2 linked regions of the Homo sapiens genome follow. The protein of the gene in region 1 interacts with the protein of each later gene in a biochemical or structural test. Each region holds a gene or a part of one and is shown in the gene's direction. Other genes may lie near its edges.

Region 1 (8,668 bases):
GAAGCAGAGCAAGCCACTGCATCACGGTCGGCAGCAGCTCTAAGCTCCAAACTTCCCTTCCTCTCTTCTATCTGTCTGTGCCTGCAGACCCCCAAAAGGGACAAATCAAAAGGCTTAATAAGCACCAGGATGGGGCCACCAGACCTCCTCTCTCTCCACCCCTCCCACCCTATTATCAGCCCTTCCGTCCCAACCTGAAAGATCAATAATGGTTTGGCAGGGAGAGGAGGCCAGGGCAGGAGGGCACGTCCCCGTGGCCTGGGGCTCCAGTTAGATGGCAGCCAGGCTGGAGCTGTCTGGGCAGGCTAGACAAAAAGAAACTTGGGAGCAGAGGCCCTCTGGTTTCCACCTGGCGTAAAGCTGAGTCTGCTGCTCACTTGCTGTGTAAGTTCCTTCCCTTCTCAGGCCTCAGTTTCCCCATCTGAAGAATGGGGGTGTTGGATAAGATGGCCTCTAAAGAGCCCTGTACCTCTGACTTTTGGACATTCTGTGTGTATGGACTCCGGAGCCCAAGGGCCTGGGTCCAAATCCCAGCTTCTCTGCTTACTAGCTGCGGGACCTTGGGCAAATTATCCAACCTCTTTGGGCCTCAGTTTCCTCACTTGTCAAAGGAGGATAAGAATTGAACATACTTCATAGGATGGCATGAAATGACATGTGCCAAGTGTCCGGCACAGGTAGGTGCTCAGTAAATGCGAGGTCAAGGCTTTGGGTGGAGGAGTTCAGGCTGAGGGCAAAGGCTCTTAGGATCCAGTATTTCAGATGAATGTGGGCCAGGGACGGGCGCGGTGGTTCACGCCTATAATCCCAGCACTATGGGAGGCCGAGGCGGGTGGATCACCTGAGGTCAGGAGCTTGAGACTAGCCTGGCCAACATGGTGAAACCCCGTCTCCACTAAAAATACAAAAATTAGCTGGGCGTGGTGGCAGGTGCCTCTAATCCCAGCTACTCAGGAGGCTAAGACAGGAGAATCGCCTGAACCCGGAAGGCGGAGGTTGCAGTGAGCCGAGATCACATCACTGCACTCCATCCTGGGCAAGACTCCCCATGGAAAAAAAAAAAAAAAGAGCAGAGGACAGGGGATGCACGCGGAACCAAGAGCTTCGGGAGCTACACACCAGGGCCCGTGCACCCTGCCAAGCCACTCCAAGGGGAAAGACTGTATCTCTCCCCTTCATTCAGCCATCCACAAACACCCCACACCCCCAAGCCAGGAACCCCAAGCAGGGAGGCAGCCCCAGGTGATGACTGTGCAGGGAGCTGAGCGACCACATGAGGGCAGTGGAGACTCGATCAGGACCGCATAGGATTTGGCCTTAGGATGGGGGTGGGATGTGAGAAAATGGGGAGAGGGGTGAGGCCAGGGGGCCTTGGAGTAGGCGGAGGCTGGAGAGTGGTTGCCTGTCCACAGACTCCCCATTCATGTCACATGTGGTATTCGTCATCCATGCAAGTATTTGTTCCTTTATTCATTTCTTCAGTTTGTTTATTCTTCTAAGCCAGCCCCTCTGCCGTCCATCCTTCCGTCTTTCCTTCCTCTCTTTCTCACTCTGTTTTTTTCTTTCTTGTCCCTTTGGTTTGTCTGGCCAGGAGATCAACTGGGCATACCGTCCTGAGCCACAGCTGGGTGCCAGCCTGAGAGAGGCACTCCTCTAGGGGATACGGTGAGCCTTGGCCCCTGCCCTTGAAGGGTTCAGGGCAGTAGGCCACGGTGCTGGGCTCCCCACAGATCTGGGCCTGGGGTTGGTGGGGCCTCGAGGGGCCTAAGTCTCCCACAGGCTGCAAGTCCTGAGAAGCCTCAGTAAACACTAAAACAGTAAACAGTACCCTGGCCAGGCAGACTGTGTGACCTGGGCCACCACTCTAAAAATAAATTCCAGGAAAACAGTATGGTCCCAGGTCCAGCAATGTCTGAGATTCAGGGACATTCCCTGCCAACCAGAGCCGATTTCTGTGGCCTGGTGACTAAGCTCCCTCTCGCAGGAGCGTAAGCATGGTGGGGGAGCGGAGGCTGGGGCTTGACGTCAGGAGATTGAATCCTTGCTGTGTCCTGCTGGTCTAAGACACCCCTCTGCCTCTCTCTGAGGCTCAGTTCCCAAATCTGTAAAATGGGAGGAAGCAGGTCATCTGCTTGGTCTACCTCGTGGTCTGAGAGCTAAATGAAATTGCAATTGTGCAGATGAGGCGTGATGGAGGGAGACCACCTGGCTTTGGGGTCACGCCTGGATCCAAATTCTAGTTCAGCCTCTTACTAGCTGTGGATGTTAGTCAACAACTTAGCCTCTCTGGGCCTCAGGCTCCTCATCTGTGAAATGGAGCTAAGAGTCCCTACCTCCTAGGGAACAGTGCCTACACGTGGCTTGCAATCCACTAATGGGTGTTGTTATTATTAGGAAATGTTCAGTGAAACTGTATAGCATGACAAACATCAAGTGTGTCATTACAGAGATTATCCCTATAGCAACCAAGGCCAAACGCCTCTGCCTGACTCTCAGCTCCCTCCACCCCCAGTCTGGCCCCACCTGCCTTCCAGCCTTGCCACCCAAGGCCTGACGACAGCAGCAGTTGGGAGGAAGATGCTGACAGCTGATCCGAGGGGGTGGGGCCCCTCTCACCACTCCTTGGGGCGGGGAGCCCTGCTCTGGAGCTACCTGCCCAGCCCAGTGTCAAGTCACTGCCGAGCCCTGTGGCAGTTTCGGGGAGGAAGGGGCACCTGGAAAGGCAGAGCTGTGCTGGGGAGGATCCTTCCCTCCAAGTGGGGCTCCATCCAGCCTGCAGACCACAGCCCGGAGCGGGAGCCGGGCAGAGGAGTCAAGGAGCTGGGCTCTGCCTCTCCACCTAGTGACTCCTGCCCTGGCTGCCTCTTTAGACCACAGTGAGTTTAAAGGAGGTTGAAGGTGCTTTTTCACCTGCCTGACTTGGAACTCCATGAGGGGGGATGTCATGACCAGCATAAATTAGGGGGAACCTAATGACGTCTGCCCCTTGTTCTTTTAAGCTTCAATAGAAACACTCAGTCCAAGATCTGGGAAGACCCTTGTGCCCATTTTTAAAAGATTTCAACTCTGGCCATTAGGAGAAGTGGAGAGATCAGGTGACAATGAGTTCCCAGTTCAATGCTGGATTTACTGCTGGCATCCAACGTGCTCCACTGAGCAAGCACCAGCTCCTCATGCTGCACCACTGTGCAAGCGAGCCTCACCCTCTGCGGGGGCGGGGTGGGGGGGCAGCATTCCGCTCCGGCCTCCGCAGCTTCGCACGTGCCGCTGTCTCCGGTGGAACACCTTTTCCCTCCCCCATCTGACTGTGTTTCACTTTTTCCTCAAGACTCTGAAAGGTTTCCTGACTCCCTCAACGTGGGCGAGGAGCTCTTTTCCCCTACTCCCGTCCCGCTGCCTGTCCCTACTCCCGTTGTAGTTCTGATCACACTGATGTCCTGCGTGTCTACCATTCTAAGCCGTGGGCTTCTCAAGGCAGGGCCTGGATTTTGTCTTAAACAGTTCAGGGTCCCCGGGCCCTTGGGCACCAGGGGGACATCTCATGGTGCAATAATAAGAAACACTCACACTTTACAGAGGGAAGGTTCTATCGCTTTCCCTAGATCGTGGCCAGCCACGGTGTCAGGTGGCTGCCCACCTGCAGCAGAGCTTCCTGGTGCTGCGGGAGGGGGCAGGCCAGGCCTGGTGGGGCCAGTGAAGGGGGTCATCCCCTTCCCACCTGGCATGAAACGCCTGTGTTGTGCTGCGTCCTGAGACCCCTGGGGAAATGCACCATTCATTCATTCATTCATTCATTCACTAAAGGTCACTGGCTCCTGCCTGGGATCTGGGACCCAGCCCCTGAGCACACCCCCGCCCCCACTGTCATGGTCCCGCTGTTTGTCTTCTCCCTTCCGACCTCCCGTGGCCCCAGCGCGGCCAGCTCACAGTAGGTGCTCGGGCAGCGTTTCTTCAGGGACCTAGACGGCCTGGAGAGGAAGGGCCCCAGCCCAGCCGCCCGGGCCTCTCACCTGGCTCTCGGGGCGCCCGGCTCGCACTTCCTCCCGCCGCCCCGCCCCTTCCACATTCCTGCCCCGCCGGGCCTGCCCCGCGCAGTCTGGGTCTCTGCGCCGCAGCCGCCCGCCCGCCCGCTCAGCGCCCGGCCCCGGGATGACGGCGGCCCAGGCCGCGGGTGAGGAGGCGCCACCAGGCGTGCGGTCCGTCAAGGTGGTCCTGGTGGGCGACGGCGGCTGCGGGAAGACGTCGCTGCTGATGGTCTTCGCCGATGGGGCCTTCCCCGAGGTGAGTGCCCCGCGCCTCCGCCTCGCCCGGTTCCGCTCGCGCGCCCGGGTGTACAGGTCCGTGCCGGAGCGGCCCAGGCTGTGCGCCTAACCCGGCCTCCGAGGGGTGTCCCAGCGGGGCCTGGGGTCCAGGGCAGAGTTCTTCCGCCCCAGCCATTGGGAATGAAGGCCTCAGTGATGTTATCTGTAAAGCCGGAGGAATGGCATCCACCGGGGAGAGGTGTCACAAGGACTGAGTGAGGCGACCTGGGTGCACACAAGATCCTAAGACAGCACTTGGCCACACAATTCCGCTGAGGGCCTGAGAGCTTGGAAGCCAGACTGCCGAGGTTCAAATTATGGCTTTGCCTCTTATAGCTGTGTGCCCTTGGGTAAGTCCCCTAACCCTGCTGTGCCTGTGTCCCTCACTACATCACAGGTGAGTGACAGTGCCCACCACACAGGGTCACTGTGACAGAGAGTTAATAGACCTCAAGCACTCAGCCCCGGCCTGTGCACAGGAAGGACTCACGGAGAGTTGGCACATGTCGCTCCTGGGAAACATTGTCTCCCTTCCAGCTCTTGCCGCTGGAAAGCACATGCCATGGGCTCTGCCTTGGAGGGTGGGAGCACGCCAGCTGTAGCCTCAGCTGCTGGGCCCGCGTCTCTGCTCTCCTCTGAGCCCCGTGCCCTTTTGTAACCTGCTTAGCTTCTCTGAGCCTCAGTTTCCTCACAACAACCCCATGGGGTAGAGGGACTGTAGGGCAGTGGTGAAGTGGAGCCCAGGGGAGGCTGACAGGCAGCTCCCGTGCGGTAGCTGGCATGTCCTTGGCGCTGTAGGCATGCCCACCGTTAATCCTTCCTGACATGCTCACTGACTGCCCAGGCAGACTCCACGGGCACCAGGCGGCCCCTGCTCTGCCGCCTCTCAGCCCTGTTGTCCTGGGAGTCCATGGAGTTGCTTCCAGCATCTCTTCTTTTTTTTTATTTTTATTTTTTTTGAGAAGAGTCTCACTCTGTCACCCAGGCTGGAGTGATATTGGCACAATCTCAGCTCACTGCAACCTCCGCCTCCTGGGTTCAAGCGATTCTCTTGCCTCAGCCTCCTAAGTAGCTGGGATTACAGGCGCCCACCACCACGCCTAGCTAATTTTTAAAATTATTTTATTTTATTTTATTTTTGAGACGGAGTCTCGCTCTGTCGCCAGGTTAGAGTGCAGTGGCACAATCTCGGCTCACTGTAACCTCTGCCTCCCAGGTTCAAGCGATTCTCCCGCCTCAGCCTCCCGAGTAGCTGGGACTACAGGCGCGTGCCACCGTGCCCAGCTAATTTTTGTATATTTTTAGTAGAGACAGGGTTTCGCCATGTTGGCCAGAATGGTCTCGATCATTTGACCTGGTGATCCGCCCACCTTGGCCTCCCAAAATGCTGGGATTACAGGTGTGAGCCACCACACCCAGCCAATTTTTTTATTTTTAGTAGAGATGGAGTTTTGCCATGTTGGTCAGGCTGGTCTCGAACTCCTGGCCTCAAGCGATCTGCCCGCCTCGGCCTCCCAAAGTGCTAGGATTACTGGCCTGAGCCACCGCAACTGGCATTCTTCCTCCTTTTCTTCCCAGCATCCTCTAAGCCCCTGGGGTTGTATAGGTGCTGGAGCATCTGAGCACAAGCAGGACGGTCGGGCCTACCCCAGTTCTTATCACACTGTAGTTCTTATCAGGATGATATCTGTCTGCCTGTCTCCCACCCTTGGCCCATGTGCTTTCTGCTGCAGTGGCATTGAGCCACTTTTGTTTAGTAGCTTGCGGAGCTGGTGTCACCTCCTTTGACCAGTCATACATTTTTTTAAGTTGGGGGAAACATGTTTCTGGGCCCCTAGATGCTGCCCATGGGAACCCAACAATGAGGGCACCCGGGGAAGAGCACCACACAGGGACAGGTGGCCCAGGCCCAGGGGAAGGCACCTGATGGGCGGGGGCTGGAGGGCTGATGCCTCACCACCAGCTCTGAGATGTCCTTGATGGTGAGACCATCCCAACTTCAGAGGAGTTATGACGTGGAAATGGGCCTCTTCCAGTTGATAAGATGTGAATGCTTTGAGGGACATGCTGGGGCTGGCCAGAAATGGGGGGAGGGCATGCTTATCACCAGGAAAATGGGCTGGATTTGTCCAGGCTCCTCCCGTCTGGGGGCTCTGAGTTCCCTGGAGCAGGAGAGTCCTCTTCATTTAAAGAACCCACAATGGGCCGGGCGTAATGGCCCACACCTGTAATCCCAGCTCTCTGGGAGGCCAAGGTGGGTGGATCACCTGAGGTCAGGAATTCAAGACCAGCCTGGCCAACATGGTGAAACCCCATGTCTACCGAAAATACAAAAAAAATTACCCGGGCATAGTGGCAGGCGCCTGTAATCCCAGCTACTCGGGAAGCTGAGGCAGGAGAATCGCTTGAACTCAGGAGGTGGAGGTTGCAGTGAACCGAGATCGCGCCATTGCACTCCAGCTCGGGGACAACAGAGCGAGACTCCGTCTCAAAATATATATAAATATATATATATATATGTAATTAAATAAATTAATTAAAAGAACCCACAACGTGTAAGAGTTGGAAAGGCTTCATTTTGCAGATGGGAAAACTGAGTCCAGAACCCAGAGGCTTACCTGGGGGCACATGGCCCGGCAGTGGCAGCACTGATCTAGAGCCCAGGTCTTCCCCCTCCCGACCAGGGCCTTCTCCACAGCCCCCAGTGCTCTGCCTGCTGGACCCAGCCTCCTCCTGCCCCTGTCCCTAGCACCAGACTCTTCCTCTAGGCAGCCCTCGAAGCCCAAGGGGCCAGCAGCCAGGAGGCTGGAGTCCCATCTCCCAGACTTCCTGCACACAGCAAAGGGCTGAGAGCAGCCTGAGGATTTGGAGGGACCTCAGTGACCCTCATCTGGCTGTGACCCAACCCTGGATTCAGGGCAGCAGGGGAGGGCAAGGTGGAGAGAGCTCCTAGGACAGGGGGAAGCCCCAGGCTGGGGTGCCAGCCTCTGCCCAGTCCTGGCTGGCATTTGTGGCTGCAACCATTCCCACAGGTTCAAAGCCTAGCAGCCCCCACACCAGCATGGGGATAGGAGGTGGCAGGGAGCACCCGGCCCTGCTGGCTAGAGCCCCCTGGGTCCTTCCTGGTTCGCACTTGGACTCCCATGGGTGTCCTAACCAGGGATGCCCCGACACTCCCTCTTGAGCCAGGTCCCCCATCTTGGTAATGATTCATTTTCTGTCTGTGAGCCCCTGGAGGGCAGACCTGAGCCTGAGTCATCTCCGTCCTGGTCCAGCACAGGCCCAGTCCTTCTTTTCTGGCTGAGGACGGCTTAACAGATAAAATTAGGTGCCATTGATCCCATGGACAGAGGGTGACCCTGCCTGGGGGTCAAAGAACAACACAACAAAAGGTACAGACAGAGTCTCTAGGATGACGTCCCGAGTGGGGGAAAGGGCTGTGACAGTTACAAGCCAGAGGGGAAACCCAGCCCCTTTCTGTCTCCGGGAACTGGAGTTGGTAACCTCAGGAAAGGCAGGTGGCTGAGGACAAGGCCTGGTCTCTGCAGCCACAAAGACCTGGCTCTGTCACTAGCCAGCTGTTCAGTGTGTCACCTTGAACAAGTCATTTCCTCTCTCTGGGCATCATCAGAAAGTGAAGGTTGTACTGACGTTCCGAGCTTGCAAGGATCGGAGATGGTGCCAGTACACAGCCACACACAGAAGATCCTTAGAGAATGGTGGGTGGTGGTGTCATTACCATGGGCATTTGCAAAGCACTGAAACATGTCTCCCAAGAGATTTCCAGCAGGCTGCCTTGCAGCTCAGATCAAGAAGGTGACTGAGTGGGTGGTCAAGCTGGGAGCTCAGATGCAAGGGCACCAGTGCCCTTCACAATGACAGGCCCCTACTCTAGGACAAAGGTCAGAAGCTGCGGAGGGGCTGGGTGTATTAGTCCATTTTCACATTGCTATAAAGAACTACCCGAGACTGGGTAATTTATAAAGAAAAGAGGTTTAATTGACTCACAGTTCTGCATGGCTGGGGAGGCCTCAGGAAACTTACAATCATTGTGGAAGGTGAAGTGGAAGCAAGGCACTTCTTATGTGGCAGCAGGAGAGAGAGAGAAGGGGGAAGCACCACACTTTTAAACCATCAGATCTCGTAAGAACTTCCTCACTATTGGCCAGGCGTGGTGGCTCACACCTGTAATCCCTGCTCTTTGGGAGGCCAAGGTGTGCAGATCACTTGAGGTCAGGAGGAGTCCAGCCTGGCCAACACTGTAAAACCCCATCTCTATTAAAAGTACAAAAATTAGGCTGGGTACGGTGGCTCACACCTGTAATCCCAGCACTTCGGGAGGCCGAGGCGGGTGGATCACCTGAGGT
Region 2 (8,575 bases), on another chromosome or scaffold:
CTGGTTCATTTGTGTGCTACAGGGTCTGTGATGTGCCAACATGTGGCCCTTCTTTAAGGGCCTCCTCTCTCCTCCATCCAGCTCCTTGGACAATTCTTTGCCACATTCTTGAGTGATCTACATTTTAACTGCTGTGTGTTTGGTTCCCAATCCAAAATCCTTCCCAAGAGCACCACAAGTCTATTAAATTGTCAGTGACTTTGCTATACTTTTTGTGTCAAACACCTAAGAAAGCTTTCTAATGTTCCTTTTAGGACTGAGCCAACATCTTTCCAGGGTCAAAGGTAAAAGGCATTAATAGTCCATGAATTAGTGAGGCCTCAAAATTCCTGCATACTTCAGGGAATAAGGAGATCTGATGAGACCAGAAACCCTATGCTGAGTTTTCTGTTTTTCTCAACATTCTGATTGCCACCACCGCCTTGCATAGTTCTGGCTAATCACTATGATGTCTGTACTGGAGAATTCTTGATAACACACAGCAGAAATCCTGAGATATTGTACCTGGAGCAGTGGAAAGGCACACAAGTTCTCCAAATCCTTTCATGGCCCAGCAGCTAGACTCTTTGGTTGTCTGCTTAGGGCATTCTTGAAGGAGTGTTTGTCCACATTGTCATCACCCATTGTCTGCAGAATCAGCAGCAACTACTACATGACAAGCAGGGTAACAGGCACTTCATATGTTGTTTGCGGTCCCACCAGCATCCTATGCTGTAAGTGCTATTTATAGATAAGGAGTCTGAGACTCCAGAAAGGTTACCTTGCCCAAGGTTATCTAATTAGGAGGTGGTCATCTAATTGGGAATTTAAATGTATCCGTCTAAGCCCAAAGACTCCTTTCCAATTTGCCTCTCACTAATTCAGTTTTTGAAACCCTGTGGCATGTGAAAGAGCCCTGGTTATCCCACCTTCTCCCCACCCCCAGGCCTAGCAAGCCTGACTTTTCTGAGATGGGATAGGCTTCTGTTTTCTTTAATGTCTTAAGAGTCTGATAAACAGTCCAGGTGGAGAACTGCAGCACTTACTAGTCTGTGAAGCCAGCCTTTTTGGAACAAGTTCAATTACTTTATGTAAGCCTCATTACAAGAATGCTTTGTTCTTTAAAGGACCCCTGAGTGATCTGTTGGCTTTTAAAGAGTGAAAAATAGTATAATAAAGAGTGTGGCCTAACATCTAGAAGGACCTGGGCTTTCTTTATATGTGGTTTCTCCATGCTTTCTCAAGGAGGAAGACTGTGAGGTGAAGTTCAGTATGCTTAGTGGACTGGCTTATTGATTTCCCACCAAAGAAACGATTCAAACGGGAGCTAAGTTCCAGACTCCCAGCAGGAATGACCTCTGGGCCACATTTGTGCCTCTCTGTCAGACCCGCGTGTTCCAATGTACACCTTAGCAGCTTTGACAGAAAGACCCTCTGCAAGGATGCGCTTTGTCCTTTGCCTGCTTCTCATGTGAGCAGGTATTTAGTAAGTGCATAGAGCATTCAAAGAAGCCTCCACAAGGCCTGTGCATACTAGATATTTGGCATAGTAATCATCTTCAGAAATCTAGGCATCTCCCTTATCTACTAAAAGTTGCAAATTAAACCTTCTTCCTAAATGTGAGGCTTGAAAGCTTTAAACTTTGTAGAAATTATTTTATTTTGAAAAGTCACATTTAGAACATCAAGTTCAGCTACATATCCTCAGTTATCTCAGCACGATAAATATAATCTCAGAACCAAATCTGAAAAATCACACATAGAAAATGTTGTAGTCTTTTCTGTTTTGAAAGGTTATGTTCCTTACACAGTATTGGGAAAGGAATTTCCAACTTAATTTTCTTTGACATTTCATAAATCTCCCAACTCTAGTATGGAGAAACTTAATATAGACTGCTGCTATTCAAATGTGCCACCCTCTCCAGGATTTTTAAAAGGATAAATACATGCAGTTTTATTTGTACTAGTGACCCGCAGTAAAATGTGTAGTCATTAATTTGGGGATAGTTTTGTGTCATTAAGCTTAGGAACAAGGAATGATCTTCATAAAAGGCTGGATTCTGAGCTACAGATTCAAAGTGATTGCATAAGAGTCCAAACGAGTTCAGCTATGTCATTGGAGATTAAACGTTCTTGGCTGGATTTGTGTGAGTTTTCCAGGGGATGGGTCTCAGGGAGCTTTGGGAGAATTCATTGGCTGTCTCTGCACCCAGCTTCCTTACTCACCATCCCCTGGTGACAGCTGTCTGTGAGCATCACCAGCAAGAGGACAACTTTGCAGAAACAATAACAAGATTTTAAAGACCGAAAAAACTACTGGGTTTTATTTCAGTTGCCATAAATGATACTGATGTATTATATTTATTTTGCTTTGATCTTTACCCTTCTCATTATGAAATCATATTTAGCTTTTAGTTAACATTAGTTACTTAATGCTGATACTATTGATTGTCACTCTTGATGAGTTATGGTCCTGAAAGAAAGGCTGAGACTGGGTCATTGAGACCCATGGATATGAGTCAAGCTTTTCTTTTTCAATACAGTCACCCCAATCTGTTTCTCAGCCAAGCATTTCTATCAGAATTTGTAATAGGTAAAAAGATTAAACTAGACAAGCGTGTGTTCAGAATAGGATGAAGAAAAGGGACCAGGAGCTCCATGGATGGAGGATCCTGGAGTCATAAGACTTGGGGTACTTTAGTGCAACCAGGTGATCACAGAGTGAAAGGGAATGGAAAGGTCTAGACACCTTACTGGCATTCTCAATTTTATAATAACAACTGCAATCTTACATGGAACCTTGCTTCTGCGGCATCAGCATTGCCTAGAAATTTGTCAGGAATGCAACATCTCAGACCTCACCCCAGACATACCAAACCAGGCTCCATAGTTTAACACTATCCTCAGGTGATTTTCATATCCATATTAAAGTTTGAGAAGCACTGCTCTAGCAGATCCCTGGGTAGAAACACACACACACACACACACACACTCACTCCATATCCTGATTTCTAAATGATGTTGAATAATTTCTAGAAGTTACGCATTTACTCTGAAGGAATTGTCTATCCTAGTAATAGCTCCAAATTAATTTTTCCTCTTAAAAAATAATTAGATGTAACAAAATCCCTTTGGTCTTGATTACACTTTTTGGCTGAGGAATAGGAATGGTAGCATAGGAGGACTGCTGCCCACCTCCTGTTTTTGATAATGTGATGGTATTATTATCTTTAATTGCCAGAATGTTGTATTCAACTACAGGTTCAGTCTTATTTCTATCAAATACAAGTAGTAGTATCTACATCAAAGTGTAATTATAGAATAGTTATACAAGCATTTGGGCAACGTCATCTCTACGAAGATTTCTAAACTTTTCCCTAAGGCTTTATTTAAAATTTGAAAGACTTAACTTACTTAATCATAGATTTGTTGTTTATATTTAAAGTGATAGTGACAAATAATCTGTAGGTTTGTCTTGTTTGTACTGTAATTAAAAAATAGAATTTGAAGAAGTAACTTCTGTTTTCTTTGCATAGAGAAAATCTCTGCTGGCTTTAGAGAAGGAAGAAGAAGAAGAAAGAAGTAAAACTATAGAGAGTTTAAAGACAGCACTGAGGACAAAACCAATGAGGTAATTTTCCCCTGGATGGCATGTTTTTTTTTTTTCTCTCCTTCCTTCCTTTTTTTGCAATAGTCAAACCTTCTAGGAAGTCTTAAGTTAAAACCATAAAATTAAACCATAACATACTTTAATCATTAACATTTAATAAAGTTATTTTCTTCTGTGAAAAGGTATGTAGGCAGCCACTAGGATGGCTAAAAAAAAACAAAACAGAGAGAGACTTTAACAATGGTAAGTTAGTAGACAAGAATGTAGAAAAATTGGGACCCTCATTCATTGCTGCTAGGAATGTAAAATTGTGAAGCCACTTTGGAAAAGGGTTTTAACAGTTTCTCAGAATGTTAAATATAGTGTTGCCATATGACTCAATAATTCTGCTCCTCGGAATGTAGCCAAGGGAAATGAAGACATGTCTCCCAAAAACATGTATGCAGATGTTCATATCGGCATTATTCATGATAGCCAAGAAGTGAAAATAACCCGTATATTGATCAGCTGATGAATGGATAAATGAAATGTTATATATCCACATAATGGAATATAATTTGGCTACAAAAAAAAGGAATGAAGTACTGATACATGCTACAACATGAAATGACCTTGAAATATGCTAAGTGGGAGAAGCCAGTAACAAAGGAGACCACACACTGTATGATTCTATTTATAAGAAATTCCCAGAATAGGCCAATCCATAGAAACAGAAAGTAGATTAGTGGTTGCCAGGAGCTGAGGAAGTGGGGAAAATGTTCTCTTTGGGTGATTAAACTGTTCTAAAATTAGCTAGTGTTGTTGGTCACACAGCTCTGTGAATATACTAAAAGCTACTGAATTGTACACTTTAAAAGGGTGAATTTTATGGCATGTGAATTATTTCTCAATACAAGTATTACTTTTCTTTAAAGATGGGTACACTTTCTGGCAACAGTGATTCATTTCCTCTCTGATAATCAGCTTCTATGTTGTGCCTCCTGCACTTTCATTCCTTTAATGCCTCTAGGATTTGCTGAGATGCTGAGGTTCTTATAAGTACATTACATGAGCACAGGTGCTATGAATGAAGCCAACTGGTTTAACGAGCTTGGCTACATCTGGGTCATGTGGTTGGGTGAAAAGCCTAGAAAATAAAGATTCCCTTTCTTTATTTGACTATAAAATGCAAACTAAGAAAAGTCTGACTCATGAAAAATACTGTGTAGTTATATGACAGAGATCTAGACTATCCTAACTGTATCAGCATTTCTCTCAATATGTTCTGCACTCTCAGATGTTAATCGATATCCAAGCCTAAATAAGTTTGGAAAATTTATCACATAAACAGGTTATGTTACTTCTGAACTTTTCGGTGGCTTTAATATGTACATGTGCATTGTGAGTTAGTCTCATTGATTAACTTAAGTGTAAGAAATATTAATAACGTTAGTATGCAACAATAAAGTATTGCTTTATTATTGTATTCAGTGTACATGGAATATTGAGATTCCATGTAGCATGTCATATAAGAGAAGAATTTTGTCACAAAACCTTAGGGATGTAGATTATCATTTGTTCAACAAGCAAATATCCTGGAATTTAAGGAAGCTTTTGACTTTCATTGATAGGGTGTTTGGGTCAGTGATCAGCACTTAAAAGTGCGTCAGCAATCAACATATAAAAGCGCATGGGCCAGACATGGTCACTCACTATCCCAGCTACTTGGGAGGCTGAGACAGGAGGTTTGCTTGAGGCCACAAGTTCAAGACCAGTCTGGGCAACATAGCAAGTCTCCACCTCTTAAAAAAAAAAGTTAAAAAGAAAAAATTGACTGGGAATGGTGGCACGCACCTGTAGTCCCGGCTACTTGGGAGGCTGGGGTGGAAGGATCACTTGAGCCCAAGAGTTCAAGGCTGCAGTGAGCTATGACAGAGCAAGACCCTGTCTCTCTTAAAGAAAAAAAAAAAAAGGATTGGGGTGGGGGCATGGGAACTGTATGCTAAATAACACAGGAACAGCAGATGGTTTTAATCTAAGACAAGATATGTATTCCGAGTATTCTCTTGCTTCTAATTTTTTATGAATATATGATCTGTTGTTTGGTTCTTTGTACCCATTGAGATATGTTTATCACAAATGGAGGGGTTTTTTTTCACACTTTTGGTTAGAACTGACTATTGGGTCTGTGCCAAGGAAGAGGCAAAGAATTAAAAAGACTTCATCAATGTAAGCCTTTTGGCACTTTAGGAACTAAATCTTTCTTTCCCCTGCCCTCTAGACTTTTCTGTTAGGGGCTATTATAAAACCCAAAGGCACTTAAGCATGGTGCATTTCTCTTCATGACAGGTTTGTAACCAGATTCATCGACTTGGATGGCCTATCATGTATCCTCAACTTTCTAAAGACCATGGACTACGAGACCTCAGAGTCTCGAATACATACTTCTCTCATTGGCTGTATAAAGGCGTTAATGAACAACTCTCAAGGCCGGGCTCACGTCCTGGCTCATTCTGAGAGTATTAATGTAATTGCTCAGAGTCTGAGCACAGAGAACATTAAAACGAAGGTGGCCGTGCTGGAAATCTTGGGCGCCGTGTGCCTGGTTCCCGGGGGCCACAAGAAGGTTCTGCAGGCCATGCTGCACTACCAGAAGTATGCCAGCGAAAGGACCCGCTTTCAGGTGGGTGTTCGCTCAGCCTTCTTCACTCACCCCTTCTTTAAAGTCTGCTCAAACACGTGCTTTTCCTGTCCCTGAAAGGGGAATGTTACTTGAGATGTCCTCTTGTGGTGATTACTCACAGTGTGACTTTAAACATTCCCTTCTTCTTAGGTTTAAGAACCAGAGAATAGAGTATACTTTCAATAGTTGATGAATCTGGGCCTTTAGATTTGCAGAACTTGAAAATGTGGTCTTGCATCCTATATGTCATATAGCACACATCTTTTGAACCCACCAAACTGGGTGTTCCCTGAAAATTTTACAGCTTGCCATTCTTGAATTAGGATCAATATTAATAATTTTTCATATTTCACTATATTACTTGGATGTAAAAAGCAAGCAGAGATAATGAAGCAAAGGCTTTTGTATACATGTATGTATGATGTAAGAATTTTGAAATTAGAGTTTTTAGGACTGTTCTTAAGGAGAAAAAGGGTGGCTTTCTATGGGTCAGTGTAATCCTGTCTAAACGTAAGATTTTAAAAGTTAACTTTTTGGTGGCTCACACCTCTAATCCCAGCACTTTGGGAGGCTGAGGCAGGCGGATCGCAAGGTCAGGAGATCGAGACTGTCCTGGCTAACACAGTGAAACCCCGTCTCTACTAAAAATACAAAAAATTAGCTGGGTGTGATGGTGGGCGCCTGTAGTCCCAGCTACTCGGGAGGCTGAGGCAAGAGAATGGCGTGAACCCGGGAGGTGGAGGTTGCCGTGAGCTGAGATCATGCCACCGCACTCCAGCCTGGGCAACAGAGCAAGACTCCGTCTGAAAAAAAAAAAAAGTTAACTTTTGAGTATAAAAAAATTCATAAAATGAGCATAAGGTTAGTAACGTTTCAGTCCTTTGTTTTTCTATTTTTGATAGACATTAATTAACGACTTGGATAAAAGCACTGGGCGGTATCGAGATGAAGTGAGTCTCAAGACTGCCATCATGTCCTTCATTAATGCAGTGCTCAGCCAAGGTGCAGGAGTGGTAAGAACCTTCTACAAATTAAAAATATATTAGTAAATAATAATTTATAAAAAGTGATTATTATGTAGTCTAAAAACCACAAATATGTATTTTATTGCCATTTTACTTTCAGGAGAGTTTGGACTTTAGACTTCATCTTCGCTATGAATTTCTGATGTTAGGAATTCAACCTGTAATAGATAAATTAAGGGAACACGAAAATTCAACATTAGATAGGTAAGTCAGACTATTATGATGTGAGAAAGTTTCTGTGTTTCCCATCTGTGTAATGCAATACCTCATCAAGTGCTGGCCTGTGGTTACTTGTGCCCTGTCTGTAACATAAAGAGCTTGTATCAGAATGTTAGTTCAGCTAATGATGTTTTCATAGTAAGACTTTGTTGATGAGGGAAGCAGCACATTATGTAGAGAACTTAATGTGGGTTTTAGCATTAGACCTGAATTCATATCCTATCCTAGTCCTGCCTCTTATTCCTGTGTATCCTGGTGAAGTTACTCAATTTTTCTGAATTTTGCTGTTTTTATAACTGCAAAAGATAGTGCTGGTGGTGATGATGATAATGACAGTGATTTTCCAGGAATGATGTAAAAATTGACTATAAAACCTATGGAATTACTTAGCCCCTTTGATAGGCATTCTGTGAATGTTAATTTCCACTACCTGTTCATTTCATCGTTTGCTATCATTTCACTGAGTCTAAGCTATCCCAACTTGCTTTCAGAGCTTTTCTCTACCACGGCTCTCCTCTCCTGTATATTCATATACTCCAACATGCTCTTCTTCTTGATATTCTGTGAACACTCTTGCATCAGTGCCTTTGCGCTTGCTGTTTCCTCAGCTTCAAAAGATCTTTCACAGATGTCCAAATTGTTGGTTCCCTAGTTCCCTGGAGAGAGACCTGTTCTAACCACTGTGTGTACATTATTCACCTCATCTGCCATCATTTTCTATTTCCTTTACCCTGATGTGTTTGTCTTCATAAAATGTATCCTGGGTGTGTAGAATACATAGTAGGAGCTCAATACATATGTGACTGAATAAATGAATGGCATGATCATTTCTTTTGTGATCTTTAATTCAGCTGGAAGTTAAGTGTAGGTATATGGGCATGTTTTTCCATAAAGGGAATCCATAGTGGAATCTGAACTTGATTGTTTTTAGATTTAGTTTTAATTTAATAATTGCCTACTGTATGCTAGGCATCGTAGACTTTTAAATTTTTCTCATATTGTGATCTGTTTCGCTCAGGTGATGTCTTTTTTTCTTAGAAAGAACAAAGTTGAAGCTTTCAAATTTTGTTACATTGTTCC

The links. The genes of interacting proteins can lie anywhere in the genome.
Region 2: the proteins of RHOD (region 1) and DAAM1 form a complex in vitro, tested with the Homo sapiens proteins (one study listed by IntAct).

The regions. Positions count from the first base shown.
Region 1 is NC_000011.10:67,052,754-67,061,421, forward strand, and holds the start of RHOD (rho-related GTP-binding protein RhoD), read left to right. Parts: upstream 1-4,093; 5' UTR 4,094-4,149; coding exon 4,150-4,281; intron 4,282-8,668. UniProt on the Homo sapiens protein: Involved in endosome dynamics. May coordinate membrane transport with the function of the cytoskeleton. Involved in the internalization and trafficking of activated tyrosine kinase receptors such as PDGFRB.
Region 2 is NC_000014.9:59,316,975-59,325,549, forward strand, and holds part of DAAM1 (disheveled-associated activator of morphogenesis 1), read left to right. Parts: intron 1-3,515; coding exon 3,516-3,610; intron 3,611-5,917; coding exon 5,918-6,251; intron 6,252-7,153; coding exon 7,154-7,264; intron 7,265-7,376; coding exon 7,377-7,480; intron 7,481-8,575. UniProt on the Homo sapiens protein: Binds to disheveled (Dvl) and Rho, and mediates Wnt-induced Dvl-Rho complex formation. May play a role as a scaffolding protein to recruit Rho-GDP and Rho-GEF, thereby enhancing Rho-GTP formation. Can direct nucleation and elongation of new actin filaments.